4 separate regions of the Homo sapiens genome follow, and all the other regions are linked to region 1. Evidence: fine-mapped expression QTL. A gene starts in region 1. Each other region holds a variant in brackets. All regions are shown on one strand. Distances are between the middles of the regions. Region 1 holds the start of CTNS (cystinosin, lysosomal cystine transporter). Region 2 overlaps CTNS (cystinosin, lysosomal cystine transporter). Region 3 overlaps P2RX5 (purinergic receptor P2X 5). Region 4 has its middle 7.5 kb from the start of CCDC92B.

Region 1 (4,473 bases):
GATTAAGGGCGGTGCAAGATGTGCTTTGTTAAACAGATGCTTGAAGGCAGCATGCCCGTTAAGAGTCATCACCACTCCCTAATCTCAAGTACCCAGGGACACAAACACTGCGGAAGGCCGCAGGGTCCTCTGCCTAGGAAAACCAGAGACCTTTGTTCACTTGTTTATCTGCTGTCCTTCCCTCCACTATTGTCCTATGACCCTGCCAAATCCCCCTCTGCGAGAAACACCCAAGAGTGATCAATTAAAAAAAAAAAAAAAGTGGCCATGCTGGGTGCGGTGGCTCACACCTGTAATCCCAGCACTTTGGGAAACCGAGGCAGGCAGATCAGTTGAGGTCAGGAGTTTGAGACCAGCCTTGCCAACATGGTGAAACCCCATCTCTACCAAAAATACAAAAAAATTCTCCAAGCATGGTGGCGCACACCTGTAATCCCAGCTACTCGGGAAACTGAGGCACGAAAATCACTTGAACCCGGGAGGCAGAGGTTTCAGTGAGCAGAGATTGCACCACTGCACTCCAGCCTGGGTGACAGAGCGAGACCCTGTCTCAAAAAAAAAAAAAAAAAAAAAAGAAGTGCTCTATTTCAGGAGAAACTGGCACTTTCTGAGCCTACTCTCCCCTAATGCCAGCTCTCCTGCTCACCCCACCAGGGTCAGAGCCAACTTTGCCTCCAATTCATAGTCCTTTAAGTAAGAATCCTTTTAATATGCCCTAATGTCCCAACCAAACTAATCTTGAAAGCTTCTATGTAGATACAAAGTGCTCCTGAAATCCCTATCCTCAGAAATGCTTCTGAGCCAAATGGGCTCTGAACCCTAAACAACCGTGTCCATGTATGTGGCAAGAGCTTGTGAAAAACAAAGCTGGGCCAGGCGCAGTGACTCACAACTGTAATCCTAGCACTTTGGGAGGCTGAAGTGGGCAGATCACTTGAGGTCAGGAGTTCAAGACCAGTCTGGCGAACATGGCGAAACCCTGTCTCTACTAAAAATACAAAAAGTAGCCGGGCGCGGTGGCTCACACCTGTAGTCCCAGCTACTCGGGAGGCTGAAGCAGGAGAATCACTTGAATCCAGTTGGCGGAGGTTGCAGTGAGCCCAGATCACGCCACTGTACTCCAGCCTGGGCAACAGAGCGAGACTTGGTAAGAAAGAGAAAGAAAGGAAAGAATGAAGGAAGGAAGGAAGGAAGGAAGGAAGGAAGGAAGGAAGGAAGGAAGGAAGGGAAGGAAGGGAAGGAGTCTCGCTCTGTCACCCAGGCTGGAGTGCAACGGAGCGATCTCGACTCACTGCAAGCTCCGCCTCCCGGGTTCGCGCCATTCTCCTGCCTCAGCCTCCCGAGTAGCTGGGACTACAGGCGCCCGCCACCACGCCCCGCTAATTTTTTGTATTTTTAGTACAGACGGGGTTTCACCGTGTTAGCCAGGATGGTCTCGATCTCCTGACCTCGTGATCCGCCCGCCTCGGCCTCCCAAAGCGCTGGGATTACAGGCGTGAGCCACCGCGCCCGGCTGACCAAAGGTTTCTTGGTCCGCATTCTGCTTCTGTGGAATGAGCCAGGAGCCAGTTAGGCCTGATTTGACATCTGATTTCCGGAGGAAAACCCAGACTCTGCCCTGGGCAACAAACTGAATCCTGAACTTGAGGTCACAGGGCAGGTGTGAGGAGCGGAGAGCAGCAAGAGTGAAAGGGAGGCCTGTGGTCATTCCATACACACAAGAGATCAGTTCCTCCAAGGTCAGGGGACAGAGAGCACAGGGATCCAGCGCCAAGCGCAAGGCCCCCAGAAGAAGCCAGAGAGTCGGGGAGGGGGCGGGGGGGAATCGGTCCCAGCAGGTGGGAAGGATTCTGGGACCAGACCTAAGGGATCATGAGCACAGCTGCTGCAGGCAGACGGGCCCCTGGAGAAGCTGGGGACAAGCTGGAATAGAGACTTCATTGCGGGAAGGGCTGTCAGGGAGGCCTCCTGGGGTGGAAAAGGGTGGTCAGGAGGCTCCTGGAGGCGGCGCGGCCCCGGGGGTCCAACTCACCTGGGGCCCGGCCACCGCGCTCTCGACCGCCGCCTCTGCCCGCGCAGCACGGGCACAGCTCGCCAGCACTGCGAACCCGGATGGGTCGTCGGGCGCGGCCCTCAGCAGAGCTGCCTTCACAGATGTGGTGCCCAGGTCAATGCCGAGGGTGATCGGCCGCGCAGCCATTATCTCCCTGACCCGCGCAGCTCCAGTCTGCAGCCAGCGGCCCCACAAGTCCGCGCTCTTCGCCCAGGGGGGCGGGGCAGGGGCGGGGAGTCGCCTGCCAATCTTTCAGCCACACCCAACATGGAGGCTTCTCGTCTTCCCACTGGCCGGGGAAGGCGAGCTTCCACGCAACCTCTCGGCGGGCCCCGGCTATAGGCGGAGAGGCGGCGGAAGGCGGGACCTAAAGGGGGCCCCGCCCCACGGGCTCTGATTTCCGCCCAATGGAGGGCGGTCTGAGCTTCGCTCACGAAAGGAGCCGGGAGGCGCTGGCGGCTCCAAGAGTCTCTGTGTCCCTGGCAGCGGACCTCATCTTCCCTCACGCCGGAGCCCCGATCTCTGCGCCCCGGCCCGACCCAGCTGCGCTCTGTCCGTCTAAGACGCGCGGAAACTACAACTCCCAGAGCTCATCTCGCCGAGATCCGGCCCCACGAGTCAGGTGGCGGAGGTCAGGTGACAGCGGACCCGCCTCTCCCAAAGTCTAGCCGGGCAGGGGAACGCGGTGCATTCCTGACCGGCACCTGGCGAGGCTCATGCGTCCCGTGAGGGCGGTTCCTCGAGCCTGGGGGCGCTCAGGTGAGAGCGGACGCGGCCTCCCCTGTTTCCCAGGCGGACCCCTTGAGGCACAGCAGGTCAGCGGGGCAGCCTGCCGGGGGTCCAGCGCCCTCAGCCGCGGCGGGCTCCTTTCCCCGCCACCAGTGCTGGCCTCGCGACACGGGACAACCCCCGGGTGGAAGGGCCCGAGCGGTGGTCAGCCGAGGCAGGGGCAGCGGGCTGCCGGGGTGGGTGCCGTTCCCAGCCCCTTACCTTCTGCTCAGTTGCCGCCTGGGTCTCGGTTGGGGAATTTGCAGATTGCTTTGGAGACGCTGAGAGAACCTTTGCGAGAGCGCCGGTTGACGTGCGGAGTGCGGGGCTCCGGGGGACTGAGCAGCACGAGACCCCATCCTCCCCTCCGGGTTTTCACACTGGGCGAAGGGAGGACTCCTGAGCTCTGCCTCTTCCAGTAACATTGAGGATTACTGTGTTTTGTGAGAGCTCGCTAGGCGCCCTAAGCAACAGAGGTAACCACTTTATATCCTTGTTTCTCAACCTCGTTATTCCTACCTACCCCCTTCCCATAAAATTTAATACCACTAGTACGCTGTGTATTTGTTTCTGTGGCCACAAACCATTGTAATAGCTAGATTTCTTCACTACCACCCCAAGCCAATTTTTTTTTTTTTTTTGAGATGGAGTCTGCAGCCTCTGTCACCCAGGCTGGAGTGCAGTGGCGCGATCTCGGCTCACTGCAACCTCCGCCTCCGGGGTTCAAGCGATTCTCCTACCTCAGCCTTCCGAGTAGCTGGGACTACAGGCCTGAGCCACCATGCCCAGCTAATTTTTGTATTTTTAGTAGAGATGGGGATTCACCATGTTGGCCAGGCTGGTCTCGAACTCCTGACCTCAGGTGATGCGCTCACCTCGGCCTCCCAAAGTGCTGGGATGACAGGCGTGAGCCACCGCGCCCAGCCTACCCCCAGCCAATTTTAGTCCCACTTGACAATGCGTGCTTTACATCTCCTCATTTAAGTCCTGTGAGGTAGTTACCACCTCCTTGTTTGGCACCACAAGGTCGCATAAGTAATAAATAGGTCAAGCCTGTCTCCAGTGCACACAGCCCTTGCCACTATTTGTGTACCCTCTCCAAAAGCAGGAGACCCAGGGAGTTCCAGGTCGTAGAACAGAGGACAGGACCAACTCATACCTGGCAGACAGGAGCTGCCACACTAGACCCCTAGCCCCAGGTTGCTCCTGGGAAGGGACTGAATGGGTGAGGAGCCTTCTTGAAACATGTGACATCTGAATGAGGCCTGGACAATAGTTAGAACTTACATAGGAAGGGCACGCCAGACAGAGCCCATTGTCAGGAGATACTTCATTTCTATCTTGTAGCTTTCACAAGCCACTAGTTGTATGTAATTATCAATCTGGTTTTTTTTTTGTTTTTTTTTTTTAATTTGAGACGGAGTTTCACTCTTATCACTCAGGCTGGAGTGCAATGGTGCAATCTCGGCTCACTGCAACCTCCACCTCCCGGGTTCAAGCGATTCTCCTGCCTCAGCCTCCTGAGTAGCTGGGACTACAGGCACATGCCACCACGCCTGGCTAATTTTTGTATTTTTAGTAGAGACGGGGATTCACCATGTTGGCCAGGCTGGTCTCGAACTCCTGACTTCAAGTGATCCAACTGCCTCGGC
Region 2 (4,473 bases), 22 kb after region 1:
TCCCTCCACCCCCTGCAGTGTCATTGGTCTGAGCTTCGACTTCGTGGCTCTGAACCTGACGGGCTTCGTGGCCTACAGTGTATTCAACATCGGCCTCCTCTGGGTGCCCTACATCAAGGTACGGCCTTGCCTGCCCTACATCTCTGCCCACATGGCGTGGTGGCCCGGCTGCCCCTCACCACCCAGCTTCTCCCACCCACCAAACAGGAGCAGTTTCTCCTCAAATACCCCAACGGAGTGAACCCCGTGAACAGCAACGACGTCTTCTTCAGCCTGCACGCGGTTGTCCTCACGCTGATCATCATCGTGCAGTGCTGCCTGTATGAGGTGAGACCAGCCCTGGCCCCCCACAGGCCACCCCAGCCAACACCCGCCACCCCACCTCACCTTTGACAGAAGACACGGCAGAGCCTGGGAAAGGAAGGGTGTGTGTTCATTCATCCAGGTCCTGTGCTGGGCATAGAAGACACCCATGAGTCCAGGCCCTCAGAGCCCCCCAAGTCTGGGGTGAGGGACTCAGGGAGAGGCAGTGCCTGGACTCAGGCTGAGAGCCGTGCACAGAGGAGCACAGACAGCTCATGGAGGAGTGCAAGGCCCTGAGCCCTGCCAGGGAGGAGGGAGGAGGGCACAGAAGGGAGGAGGGAGGAGGGCACAGAAGGGAGGAGGGCAGAGGAAGACGCTTGGTTGGGCTCCAAGGATGAGTGAAGTTCCTATGGAGGAGGGGAGGGGCCAGGGTGGGCTCCTGGAGGGGTCAGGTCACAGAGGCCAAGGGGCATTTGAGAGGGACCCTGAGCAGGCGGGTGCAGCTGGGCTTCAGGGTGCCAGGAGGGGGCCCGCGTGCAGGCGGAGACACCTGTATTCAGCTTTGTTGCTGGAAGCCATGGGTGTCGGCAGGGCAGGGCCCCACCAAGGCTGGGTCCGGGGACCCCTGATATGACAGCTTTGCTTTCCCTTCTCTCAGGGAGTTCCCTTCACACTGTAAGGCCAGCTGGGGGCTGTCTGGCCCCACCCGTATGAACCTTCTAGGCTTTCTTAGCTTTTGGTGTGAAGCGAGAGTGAAGGTGGCCCACATTGGGCCCGTGTTCAGGGAAAGGCAAGGCGAGGGGACAGATTCCTGAGATCCTCAGGCTGCTGCCGGGTCGTGGGACGAGTCAGTACCTGGCTGGGAGAGGCACCAGGCCACCAGAGTTCCGACCCCACGTCTCCAAGTGAGTGCTGAGAGGCGCCCAGTTCTGCCAAGTAGGAACAAAGCAGACAGAGCTTGAGAGTCCAAGCAGCCTGAACAGGAGGCCCTGGCGATGAGAAGGTGTGGTTGGTGCTGGGGATGTCCAGCACCAGCCCAGGTGTGATGCTTTCTGTGGTCCACATGTTCCCCTGCCACAACCCCAGTGCAGCCCCCACCTTGCAGGGGCTCCTTCAAGGCCAGGGTCCAGCCTCCGTGCCCCTCTCTAAGCCCGCCCTATCCGGGGCCGTCCTTGCTCAGCCCCGGCGTGGCCTCTGTGTGGGTCCACATCTCTGCCCTCCTCTCGCCCCCAGCGCGGTGGCCAGCGCGTGTCCTGGCCTGCCATCGGCTTCCTGGTGCTCGCGTGGCTCTTCGCATTTGTCACCATGATCGTGGCTGCAGTGGGAGTGACCACGTGGCTGCAGTTTCTCTTCTGCTTCTCCTACATCAAGCTCGCAGTCACGCTGGTCAAGTATTTTCCACAGGTACCTCCAGGGCCCTGTTCACATGGCCGGTGGCAGGAGAGGTGAGAGCTACATGGCCCAGGCCCTGCTCCGGTGGGGCAGCTCCTGCCGGCGTGAGGAAACAGGACGGAAAGCCACAGGGAGCCCGGGAGCCCAGCGGGAGCGGGGCGGTGGGGAGGCCAGCCTGCCGCTCTTCCCCCGGGGCTGGAATCACAGGAGATCGCTAGCGGAGGCCCCTTGGACCCCACGCTCCCCTAAGCATCAGGTGTGCGGGTGGTTCCCCTTCTCCACACCCCAGCCTTTCCTGATGCCTTTGGCTCTGCCCTCACCACTGCCTCCATTTCCACAGCAGGACACTCTGGAGAGGT[G/A]AGGTGGGAGGAGGGAGCCCCTTCCCGCGCAGAGCTCAGCCCGTCCTATGAGCATAGCCGGTCCTCTTCAGATCCGGGGACTCAGGGTCCAGCACATCTTGCCCCACAGCCTGGGACAGGGTCAGGGCTGAAGTTGCTGCACCCGGGGACCTAGGGCCTCATTTAACTCACCCCATTCCCAAAGGGAGAAGCCTTGTTCCAGTGCCCCCAGCCCTGGGAGCCTCGTGTTCTGTGAGCTCAGGAGGGCCAGCGTTCTGACTGGGAGGCAGGACTGGACTCTTAGGCTGAGCAGGACTAAGTTCTGTGGCCAAGGAGCCCGGGCGTTCCGGGCCAGGCCAGCCTGCACAGAGGCTGGGGCGGGACACGGGGCGGCAGTGAGGGGATGTGGCTGGTTGAACAGTGTTGAGCATGTTGAAGCTGGGAAGCTGGGGTCAGGTCCCGGGAGCTGGGGGGGGCTTCCGAGGAGGGGAAGGTTTGGGGAAGTGGGCCCCAGTCCCTGAGGGTGGGAGGGATTGGGGCCAAGAAACCGGGGATGGAGGAGCCCAGGTTGGAGACGTTTGGAACTGCTGGAGGGGCAGCAGCAAGTACGGAAGAGGGTGAGCCGGGACACAGACAGGGACTGACTAGAGGCTCACTGGGAGGCCACCAGAGAGGCCAGGACCTGCCTCACGGGGGGAAGGAAAGGTCACAGCAGTCAGAGGACCCACAGGGCTCTGCAGCATGGGAGGACGTGGGGCACAGGCAGTCAGACTGGGGCGCATCCCCGCAGACCCGCCCCCCCAACCAGACCCAGGAAGCCCCGGCCAGGCCTGTGGGGGGCGTTAACCCCGCTCTACAGACGGGGAAACCAAGGCTAGGAGAACTGTCACTTGCCCAAGACAGCAGGCTCCGGTGATGGAGCCAGGATTCCAAACCAGAAGTCCCACTCCCACCAGTCCCTAAGCACATGAAGTCCAGGCTGAGTTTGGGGACAGCCTTGCCTGGAGGTGAGAAGAAGAATCATAGCTACAGGGAAACTAGCACAGGGCCTTGGCCCCAGGGATGTGGAGGAGACGGGGAAGGCCGCATCGGCCCCGCCTCTGCTGGAGCTGTGAGGTGTGGGGGGTGCGGGGCCTTTGCTTGCTGTACATGCAGATGAGACGCCTACCCCCAGGACCACCCAAACTGTTCCTTGGCTGAGGCCTGTCATAGCCCAAAGGTCACCGTGTCCTTGGAGCCAAGGCCCCAGTGGGAGGAATGAGAACCGCTTTTGTTTGGAGGGGCAGTCACGAGGCGCATGAGGCAGCCGCCCAGCCCTCACCGCCCTCCGTCTGTCTGTCCGTCTGTCTGGCCCAGGCCTACATGAACTTTTACTACAAAAGCACTGAGGGCTGGAGCATTGGCAACGTGCTCCTGGACTTCACCGGGGGCAGCTTCAGCCTCCTGCAGATGTTCCTCCAGTCCTACAACAACGGTGAGTCAGCCAGCGGGCTGCTGGCCACCCTGCGGCTGGGGCATCGGGCGGGGCCAGCCTTCCCGGGACCTTCCAGCCAGGGCTCCACCCCCACCTGGGATCCAAGCCAATCCAGCCCCCAAGGAGAGACCCACCTAGGGGCCTTCGTAGCTGGAGGCTTTGTGGTTTTCTGGGACCCCCACCGCCCACCACCCCACAAGCTCCAGCTGCCTCAGGAGCTGCCAACCTAACACCAGCTTCTGTCCCCCGGCTGCTAACAGACCAGTGGACGCTGATCTTCGGAGACCCAACCAAGTTTGGACTCGGGGTCTTCTCCATCGTCTTCGACGTCGTCTTCTTCATCCAGCACTTCTGTTTGTACAGAAAGAGACCGGGGTATGACCAGCTGAACTAGCACCCAGGGACCCAGTGTACCCAGCCTCTGGCCTCGTGCCCTGCTGGGGAAGGCCTCACCCAGCGAAGGCCGGAGAAGCGGTTGGGCCCTGGCACACAGGGCTGGCTCAGTGTGCGGACAGAGGAGACCACTCTGCTCCTGGGGCCAGAGGCCATTCAATAGCCTGCCTTCGTCCGGGCCCCTCCTGGGCCTCCCCGGCCAGGCACGTGGCACCGTCGCCTTGACACCGCCATCTCTTTTCTTTAAGGCTTCAGGCAGCGCGCACAGGCTCTGGCAGCCGTCTCAGGCAGGACTGGGCACCAAGCTTGCAGCCGAAGGCCTTGCCCCAAACTACCAGCGTTTCTGCAAGCAGCTTGAAGGGCTGACCTTGCAGCCGGGTGAGCCAAGGGCACTTTGCTGCCACCGCTGCATTCCCAGAGATCAAGCAGCCCGGTGCCGTGGCCAGTGAACTCAGAGGTGCTGGTGGACGGGCTAGGACTTTGGGGTTAGGCCATGGGGCTCTTTCTCTGAAGGCCACTTTCCTGACGTACTCTCTGTACATAACTCAGCGTCCGTGACTGCAGTAACAGCCA
Region 3 (4,473 bases), 48 kb after region 1:
CTGCTGCCGAGGCCGAATCCGGTTCTGTAGAGCATGTACTCAGAACACTTCTCCTCCCCGGGCCCTCCAGCCCCTGCCTCCCACCCCAGCCATCAATATCACATCAGGGCAAAGGCTCGAAGCCACGGGGGTGCTCCACAGGGCTGCCCTCGGGCCGCCGGCCTGGAAGCGGAACTGACCTCACTTCCTCGTACTTCTTGTCACGGTAAAACTCTCTCTTTTTGATGAGGTAGATGAGTACCAGGTCGCAGAAGAAAGCACCCTGCAAAACAGGGGTTCCTGATTCAGAATCCTAGACCTCTGAGAGCACTGTTCATTTAGGGCACTTTGCCCCTTCCATCCTGCAACAGCCCCTAAAGGTGGCATCACTGTCCCCATTTAACAGATGAGGAAACTGGGCTCAGCAAGGGGCACCCTTGTCCGACACCACAGAGCTGGTCCATGGTGGAGCTCAAGCTGGACTGGAGCTCCCCCGATCCCACAGGCCAGGCACTCCCCGACCCCGCACCACCCGGACCCCATCCAATCGTTCCTTCAACACATTTGCTGGGCACCCAGCACGTGCCAGTGTCTGCACCGAAGTACGGAGAGGATCTGGACAAGAGAGACCTCCTGGGGACTCTCCCTCTGGTGCAGGAGACAGGCGTGTCGATGACGACCCACATAGGACTTCACTCAGCCTGGGGAGGGTCCCTATTCAGTCCTTAAGGACTAAAGAGGAGTTTATACAAGACAAAGAGGTGGAAGGACATTACGGAGGGAGGAACAAGCCTGTCACATCTGGGAAATGCCGCAGGGCCTGTGCGGGAAGAGGGAGATGCGCTTCTGGAGAAGGGGATGGGGACTGGCCTGTTAGGCTTCTTAGAATGTTTCCGAGGCATTGGTCCTCATCCTTTAGGTGAGGCGGAGGCACCACAGCCCGAATTTTGGCATTTAGAAAGATCCCTGTGGTAGTCAGTGTGAGATAGGTTGGAAGGGTTCTAACCAACAAGGACGCTATGGTGCTAGTCAAAGAAAGATGATGGGTGCCAGGTGCAGTGGCTCACGCCTGTAATCCCAGCACTTTGGGAAGCCGAGTCAGGCGGATCACCTGAGGCCAGGAGTTCGAGACCAGCCTGGCCAACATGGTGAAACCCTGTCTCTACTAAAAAATACAAAAATTAGCTGGGCGTGGTGGCGGGTGTCTGTAATCCCAGCTACTCAGGACGCTGAGGCAGGAAAATCGCCTGAACTCGGGAGGTGGAGGTTGCAGTGAGCCAAGATCGCACCACTGCACTCCAGCCTGGGCAACAAGAGCAAAACTCCATCTCAAAAGAGACAAAAACAAAAGCAAAAACAAACAAAAAAGGAAGATGATGAGGTGGACGACCCCAGCTCAGCCCCTCACACCCAAAACGTGCCCTACGGACCAGAGCGATGCAATTGCCCCTCTCCTCCAGCAGAGGGAGACTCCACCCACAGCACAGGGCAGGGTTGGGGCCTGAATGATAGAGGAGAGTGGAGGTGGGAAGGGTTGGTGGAGGGGCCAACAAGGAATCTTGGTCCCCTGACCCTGGGTGCTGCACATCCATCCCCTAGATGCCAAAAATGTTGCTTACCAATTCGCTGCTCCCCAGAGACCAACCCCAAACCTAACCTTGACCACCACCTCTTCCTGCGCCATTACTTCCAGTTCACAGGTCTGTCCCCAGAGGGTGCTCTGATTTTACCCACATCACAAGAAAGTGATGAATGGGCTGGGCGCAGTGGCTCACGCCTGTGATCCCAGCACTGGGAGGCCGAGGTGGGCGGATCACCTGAGGTCAGGAGTTGGAGACCAGCCTGGCCAACATGGTGAAACCCTGTCTCTACAAAAATACGAAAATTAACCGGGCGCGGTGGCGCACGCCTGTAATCCCAGCTACTCAGGAGGCTGAGGCAGAAGAATTGCTTGAGCCTGGGAGGCAGAGGCTGCAGTGAGCCAAGATCATGCCATTGCACTCCAGCCTGGGCGACAGAGTGAGACTCCGTCTCAAAAAAAAAAAAAAAAAAAGAAAAGTGATAGCTGAAGGTGGGCCTTCTGTAAGAAAGTAACAGGCGCAAACATCCAGGACCCTCCCAGTGACTGTCTGCAGGTAGGGATCCATGTGGAGCTCACTTTTCTTGACCCCCTCCCAGGAACGTGGTCCTGGTATGGGACACAATTTTCCAGGTTTTAACAAAAGTCACCCCTGGGTCCCAATGGACTCCTCCAGTGGGGCTGTCTTGTGTGCACAGGGAGAGGAATGAGGGAAGAGGCTGCCAGAAACCTGGGAAAGGGACCTGCCGGGATGGGCACTGACCACTCCCATGGCTCTCAAAAACTCCAGAAGGACCACGGGGCAGTGTAGACTCAGGACGCCTTTCCCTGCCCTCAGTCCCTGTGTCTCCTCCCCTGTGAGCCGCTCCCGGCCCCACTGAAGGGCCACCTCTAAGGAAGAGTCACAGGGCTGCCTTCCCTGCCTCTCAGCCTTTCAGTCGGGTGGTTCTCAGCCAGCTGGGATTTTGCTCCATCACAACTGCAGGGGAGGGTGCCCCTAACATCTAGTGGGTAGAAACCGGGAATGCTCTTAAACATCCTACAATGGGCTGGGCGCGGTGGCTCACGCCC[A/C]TAATCCCAGCACTTGGGGAGGCCAATGCCGGAGGATTGCCTGAGCCCAGGGGTTCAAGATCAGCCTGGCCAACATAGTGAGACCCCATTTCTACAAAAAATTTAAAAATTAGCCACAGGTGGTGGTGCACCTGCAGCCCTGGCTAGTGGGGAGGCTGAGGTGGGAGGATCGCTTGAGCCCAGGAGTTCAAGACTGCAGTGAGCCATGATCATGCCACTGCACTCCAGCCTGGGCAACAGAGCAAAAACCCTGTCTCTGAAATCAACATCCTCAGGGTCTGGGAAAATATAGTATCGACCAGAAAAGTGTGAAATATGAAATAGAAAACAAACAAAAACCTCCTACGACACCCAGCACAGCCCTCTGTGCATTGTGGAATGTTTAAGGGCATGTCCAAGGATGTGTGTAAGACCACAACACAGAATTCTCCCACCCAAAAAGTCAGCAGCACCCAGGCTAAGAAACTGTCTGCAGCCTAATCCTGCCCCCTTTTTTTTTTTTTTTTTTTTTTTTTTGGAGATGGAGTTTTGCTCTTGTTGTCCAGGCTGGGGTGCAGTTGTGTGATCTGGGCTCACCGCAACCTCCTCCTCCCGGGTTCAAGCGATTCTCCTGCCTCAGCCTCCTGAGCAGCTGGGATTACAAGCATGTGCCACCACACCTGGCTAATTTTTGTATTTTTAGTAGAGGCAGGGTTTCTCCATGTTGGTCAGGCTGGTCTCGAACTCACAACCTCAGGTGATCCGCCACCTCACCCTCCCAAAGCACTGGGATTACAGGTGTGAGTCACTGCGCCCGGCCTAATCCTGCCCTCTTTTAGCAGAAGTAGAGATAGAGACTTTAGAAGTTCAGGGACTCACCTGGGATCCCAGGGATATCCCAGCCACGCCTCGGCTGGGGACTGACCTAAACCCATGCACAGCTGCAGAGCTACCAGCACATGCCTCCCTGGCTCTGGAAAGAGACTCGGGCTGTCACTGCTACCTGAGGACAGCTGGCAGAGCGTGAAATCCCAGAAAGCCCTCTTTTCCCACGCCTATTCTGATCTTGCCAGCTCTGGTTCTTTCTGGGGGCACTGGGACACGGTCCTCCTGAACAGCAGCCTCCCCCTCCCTGCCAGTGCGGCCGCCGGGGAGAGGGTGGGACGCGGGGAGGGAGGGGAGGTACTCCCAGCACCCATGAGCGCCACCCCAGAGCCCACGTTGATGATGGTGGGAATGATGCTGAACTTCCCTGCCTGGAAGATAGAGACAAGGCCAGTGAGCGAGGCAGGTTGGACAGCGGGGCCCCCAGGGACCCTCCCAGCGTCCCCCTCCCAGCCTGAGAACAGGAGAACGCACAGCGGGGCCCCCAGGGACCCTCCCAACGTCCCCCTCCCAGCCTGAGAACAGGAGAACGCACAGCGGGGCCCCCAGGGACCCTCCCAACGTCCCCCGCCCCCCGCCCAGCCTGAGAACAGGAGAACACACAGCGGGGCCCCCAGGGACCCTCCCAACGTCCCCCGCCCCCCCGCCCAGCCTCAGAACAGGAGAACGCACAGCGGGGCCCCCAGGGACCCTCCCAACGTCCCCCGCCCCCCGCCCAGCCTGAGAACAGGAGAACACACAGCGGGGCCCCCAGGGACCCTCCCAACGTCCCCCTCCCAGCCTGAGAACAGGAGAACGCACAGCGGGGCCCCCAGGGACCCTCCCAACGTCCCCCGCCCCCCGCCCAGCCTCAGAACAGGAGAACGCACAGCGGGGCCCCCAGGGACCCTCCCAACGTCCCCCGCCCCCCGCCCAGCCTCAGAACAGGAGAACGCACAGCGGGGCCCCCAGGGACCCTCCCAACGTCCCCCTCCCAGCCT
Region 4 (4,473 bases), 880 kb before region 1:
TCATGCTAAAAAAAAAAAACCTATCCTCACTTTAATATAATGACAATACTTATCCACGTTTTTTTCTTTTCTTTCTTTTTTTTTTTTTTTTTTTTTTTTTGAGACAGTCTTGCCCTGTTGCCCAGGCTGGAGTGCAATGGCGCGACCTCTGCTCACTGCAACCTCCGCCTCCCCGGTTCAAGCGATTCTCCTGCCTCAGCCTCCCGAGTAGCTGGGATTACAGGCAGGCGCCACCACGCCCCGCTAAGTTTTCTATTTTTAGTAGAGACGGGGTTTCACCATGTTGGCCAGGTTGGTCTCGATCGTCTTGACCTCGTGATCCGCCCACCTCCGCCTCCCAAAGCGCTGGGATTACAGGCGTGAGCCACCGCGCCCGGCCGAGTAGTTTACTTCTTTAGGCATCACTTCCTGGGTAGAACGGGTTTCCTAAGGGAGTAAGGCACAGAACGAGGCAATGGGCCGCCTGGTCTCTCCGCGCGTCAGTAGGACTCGGGGAACCAGACTCCGCCCAGTGCTCCCCAGAAACCCGGCTCCTCGGCGCGGCGGGGAGAGACCCGGACGGGGAGAGGCCGCTGTCCCGCCCGTTCTGCGGGGCCGGCGCTGACCCGGCTCCAGCCGCCTCCAGGGGCGGGGTCTGAGCGCCGCGCCCTCCCCGCGCCCTCCCCGCGCCCTCCCCGCGCCCTCCCCGCGAGCGCGCCCCGGACACCCGCCTGCGGCAGCCGAGCCTCCTCCACCGTGCGGCCCGCGGAGGGCAGGGAGCGGCCGGGCGAGGCATGGCGGGCCGCCGGGCGCCGGGGGAGAAGCGCTGGCAGCTGGTGCGCTGGTGAGTGGGCGCCGGGCGGCGCGGGGCCTAATGCGGGAGCGAACCCCGAGGCCCGGCCGGCGCGGGAAGCAGCGGGGCGCGGGCCCAAAGTTTCGTCCCGGGCTGAGGCTGCGGGGCCCGGGTGGGCGGAGGGGCGCCGGCTGCCTGGTCCCCACCACCCCCTCCGGTCCCCACCACCCCGCGTCCCCGCGCCGGGTCTCTGCGGCTCTCCAAAGAGATGGGCGACGGGGACCCTGTGCGAGCCGTCAGGCTTTGGGGGAACCCCGTCCCCCTCCCGCGGGGGCGCCCTTTCCCTGCACTTCACCTTTCACGCTCGCACGGGGCTTCCGCCTTCCCCTTCGCCCCCTTCAGGTTTCCCATTTGTGCCTCCCTCCGTTCCTTCTGCCACCCGGGGCAGGGCTCTGGACTTGGGCCCCGAGAAGGCACCACCCACAGCCCCCAACCCCTGCGTGGAAAGGGGTGCTTTAGCCCCGAAACACAGGAGCCCCTGGGGGTGTGCACTCTGGGGACAGGGCGCAGAGAAGGGGGCCTAGGAGACCAGGGCAGGGGAGGGGTCCCCGTGTAGCGGGGCAGTCGCCCTTTCCCCCTCCGCAGTCCTGGCCCGCTGGGAAGTCAGAGCCTGCGGTGTCAGGTTACCGGACTGCAAGCTCAGAGGGTTTCAGACGCAGCGCTGTCGAGTCACCTGATCTGGGCCCCCGAACCCACGTCCCAGGGTTCCAGGTGTCCCAATGTTCAGGACGGCTTCAGCCAGGGGCCTGACCTCTGCTTGGCGGCACTTGGAGCTTAGGGCAGCCTGCACAGCCCTCCCCGGACCTCGGAGGACTCCAAGATTCAAAAGAGAATGTCGGCCTGGGACTCCTCCCCATCCCAAATCATCCCACACACAGCAGGGTCAGAGAGCACCTCTGAAGGTACATTCTGTAGCCTGCATACAATGAACAATAATGTCATCAATAACAGCAACGTGGGCTTCCCCAGCACCTCCCGTGGCTCTGGAGTAGTCAGGATTCAGGCACACACTGAGAGGAAGGTATTAGCACCTCCATTTTACTAAAGATGAGGAAGCCGAGGGTCAGAGAGGGAAAAGGATTCAAGGTCACCCAACAAGCGCATGGTAGAGGCAAGGTTTGAACCAGGTCTTGCTCAGGAGCTTAACTTTTCCTCTGTTTTGCATATTTCCTGGATGGTTCCACCCAGCGTGGCCACACATCCAAGTTCACATTGTCCGAAAATCCCACAGTGTCAGAGCAGGAGGTGCCAATGGGTTTCCAAGTATATTAGTTAGCAGTGGAATCACTCTTCAAGTGAAGCTCCAATAGAGAAACCAGATAAAAGTAGAATTAATCTCCTTTATTTAATTCTTTTTTTTGAGATAGGGTCTCACTCTGTTGCCCAGGCTGGAGTGCAGTGGTGCAATCTCGGCTCACTGCAGCCTCCACCTCCCAGGCTCAAGTGATCCTCCCACCTCAGCCTCCCAAGTAGCTGGGACTGCAGGCATGGGCCATCACGCCCAGCTAATTTTTGTATTTTTTTTGTAGAGGTGGGATTTCACCATATTGTCCATAGCTAGTCTCGAACTCCTGGGCTC[G/A]AGCGATCTACCCACTTCAGCCTCCCAAAGTGCTGGGATTACAGGCATGAGCCACCGTGCCCCTGGCAGAGGTAATCCACTTTTGAATTACCTCAGGGGAGGTGGGCAGTTAGTGTCCCTTTCCTCAAAATGACATAGCATTCCATCGCCCGACCACAGCGCCTGGCTCAAGTATGGGTGTGTGACCTAGGTCAGGTCAGTGACATGACATCATGGGAACTGGGCTGGAACCACTGAGACAGGGAAGCTCTGTCTCCATAGAGTGTTGATCTGGGCCACTGATGACCACCTTGCTGCCACAAGGACTAAAACTGGAACAGAGGGAGGCAGAGGTATAAAGAAAGTAGGACCACCCCAGCACCCCAGACCTTCCAGATCAGTTCCCTCACTTCACAGAAGAAATAGGAAGAGATTTAAGGCGTAGAGCTTGGATGCCTGTTTTGACTCATCCTCCCAACTCTTGCCCCTGGCACTGTCTGCTGGGGTTGTTTCTTGGGCTGGACCTGATGATGCCTGAATTTTTTTTTTTTTTGAGATGGAGTCTCACACTGTCACCCAAGCTGGAGTGGAGTGGCGCGATCTCGGCTCACTGCAAGCTCCGCCTGCCGGGTTCACACCATTCTCCTGCCTCAGCCTCCTGAGTAGCTGGGACTACAGGTGCCCGCCACCACGCCAGGCTAATTTTTTGTATTTTTAGTAGAGACGGGGTTTCACCATGTTAGCCCGGATGGTGTCGATCTCCTGACCTCATGATCCGCCCGCCTTGGCCTCTCAAAGTGCTGGGATTACAGGCGTGAGCCACCACGCCTGGCCACGCCCCCCCCCCTTTTTTTTTTTTAAGATGAAGTCTACCTCTGTTGCCCAGGCTGGAGTGCAGTGGTGTGATCTTGGCTTACTGCAACCTGTGCCTCCTGGGTTCAAGTGATTCCCCTGCCTCAGCCTCCCGAGTACCTGGGACTACAGGTGCGCACCACCACGCCTGGCTAATTTTTTCTATTTTAGTAGAGAGAGGGTTTCACCATGTTGGCCAGGCTGGTCTTGATCTCTGACTTTGTGATCCGCCTGCCTCAGCCTCCCAAAGTGCTGGGATTACAAGTGTGAGCCACTGCACCCAGCCACATGAATCATTTTTAGTGCCGTAATTGGGTTTGGGGTCACCCCTCACCCCAGATAAAAGCTCATCTTTCTGAGAAGGTCCTGAAGATGTGACTTGAGTGGTTAGGCAGCCTGGCAGGGTGCACGTCTGAGGCCGAGATACCCTCTCAATCCATGCCATGCTCCAGCCATGGCCAGCCATGCTCCAGCTGTGGCCCCTGGATCTAGGACTTCCCACTGAGTCAGTTTACTTTCCTTTTTAATGAATCAGGATTCTTTCACTTGTAAATTGTAGAAATCGACTCAAACTAGCTTCAAAGAAAAAGGGAATTTATAGACTCACTGAACTGAAAAAACTCTAGGAGCTCTTCATGTTTCAGGCACAGCTAGATTCAGGAGCTCAAACAACGCCACTGAGGCTGGAGTGCAGTGGCGATCACAGCTCACTGCAGCCTCGACTTCCCAGGCCTGAGTGATCCTCCTCCATCAGCTTCCCATGTAGCTGGGGCCATAGTTGAGGTCCACCATCGAGAGCCACCACGTCTGGCTAACTTTTACATCTTTTTTTTTGCAGAGATGGGGTCTTGCTATATTGTCCAGGCTGGTCTCAAACTCCTGGGCTCAAGGGATCCTCCCATCTTGGCCTCCCAAAGTGCTGGGGCTACAGGCATGAGCCACTGTGCCCAGCCTTGAGTCATCATTCCTTTACCTAACCTCTACTGACAATCTTTCAAGTATTTTGAACATTTTGATATTACAAGCATTGTGGCAAAGAACATTCTTGAATCTATATCTGTGCATACTTGTGCAAAGATAGTGGTTGGATACTTTATTATTTTTTATTTTTTGAGACAGAATCTTGCTCTGTCACCCAGGATAGAGTGCAGTGGCTCAATCACAGCTCACTGTAGCCTCTACCCGCTAGGCTCAGGTGATCCTTCCACCTCAGCCCCCTGAGTAACTGGGA

Evidence for each region. PIP is the estimated chance that this variant, and not a neighbour inherited with it, causes the effect.
Region 2: its variant is fine-mapped to the expression of CTNS in whole blood (TOPMed, PIP above 0.99). The same link has a PIP of 0.9 or more in blood mononuclear cells.
Region 3: its variant is fine-mapped to the expression of CTNS in whole blood (TOPMed, PIP above 0.99).
Region 4: its variant is fine-mapped to the expression of CTNS in minor salivary gland (GTEx, PIP above 0.99).

Annotation. Positions count from the first base shown.
Region 1 is chr17:3,634,020-3,638,492 of GRCh38, forward strand. CTNS (cystinosin, lysosomal cystine transporter) reads left to right here and starts at 2,741. Exons shown (of 12, transcript NM_004937.3): 1 at 2,741-2,812; 2 at 3,088-3,297. SHPK (sedoheptulokinase) reads right to left here and starts at 2,231. Exons shown (of 7, transcript NM_013276.4): 1 at 2,033-2,231. The coding sequence starts at 2,200. RefSeq lists enhancers at 1-648, 2,487-2,736 and silencers at 1,947-2,006, 3,017-3,106.
Region 2 is chr17:3,656,469-3,660,941 of GRCh38, forward strand. It overlaps CTNS (cystinosin, lysosomal cystine transporter), which reads left to right. Exons shown (of 12, transcript NM_004937.3): 8 at 19-118; 9 at 208-327; 10 at 1,537-1,707; 11 at 3,390-3,507; 12 at 3,768-4,473. The coding sequence ends at 3,901. Among named protein-coding and RNA genes, the nearest start is that of TAX1BP3, 9.9 kb to the right of the region's middle. The variant G/A (reference allele first, on the strand shown) is at 2,055.
Region 3 is chr17:3,681,717-3,686,189 of GRCh38, forward strand. P2RX5 (purinergic receptor P2X 5) reads right to left here. Exons shown (of 12, transcript NM_002561.4): 10 at 180-262. P2RX5-TAX1BP3 (P2RX5-TAX1BP3 readthrough (NMD candidate)) reads right to left here. Exons shown (of 15, transcript NR_037928.1): 10 at 180-262. Among named protein-coding and RNA genes, the nearest start is that of P2RX5, 12 kb to the right of the region's middle. The variant A/C (reference allele first, on the strand shown) is at 2,630.
Region 4 is chr17:2,754,945-2,759,417 of GRCh38, forward strand. It overlaps a transcript of RAP1GAP2 not described here. Among named protein-coding and RNA genes, the nearest start is that of CCDC92B, 7.5 kb to the left of the region's middle. RefSeq lists a silencer at 144-353. The variant G/A (reference allele first, on the strand shown) is at 2,412.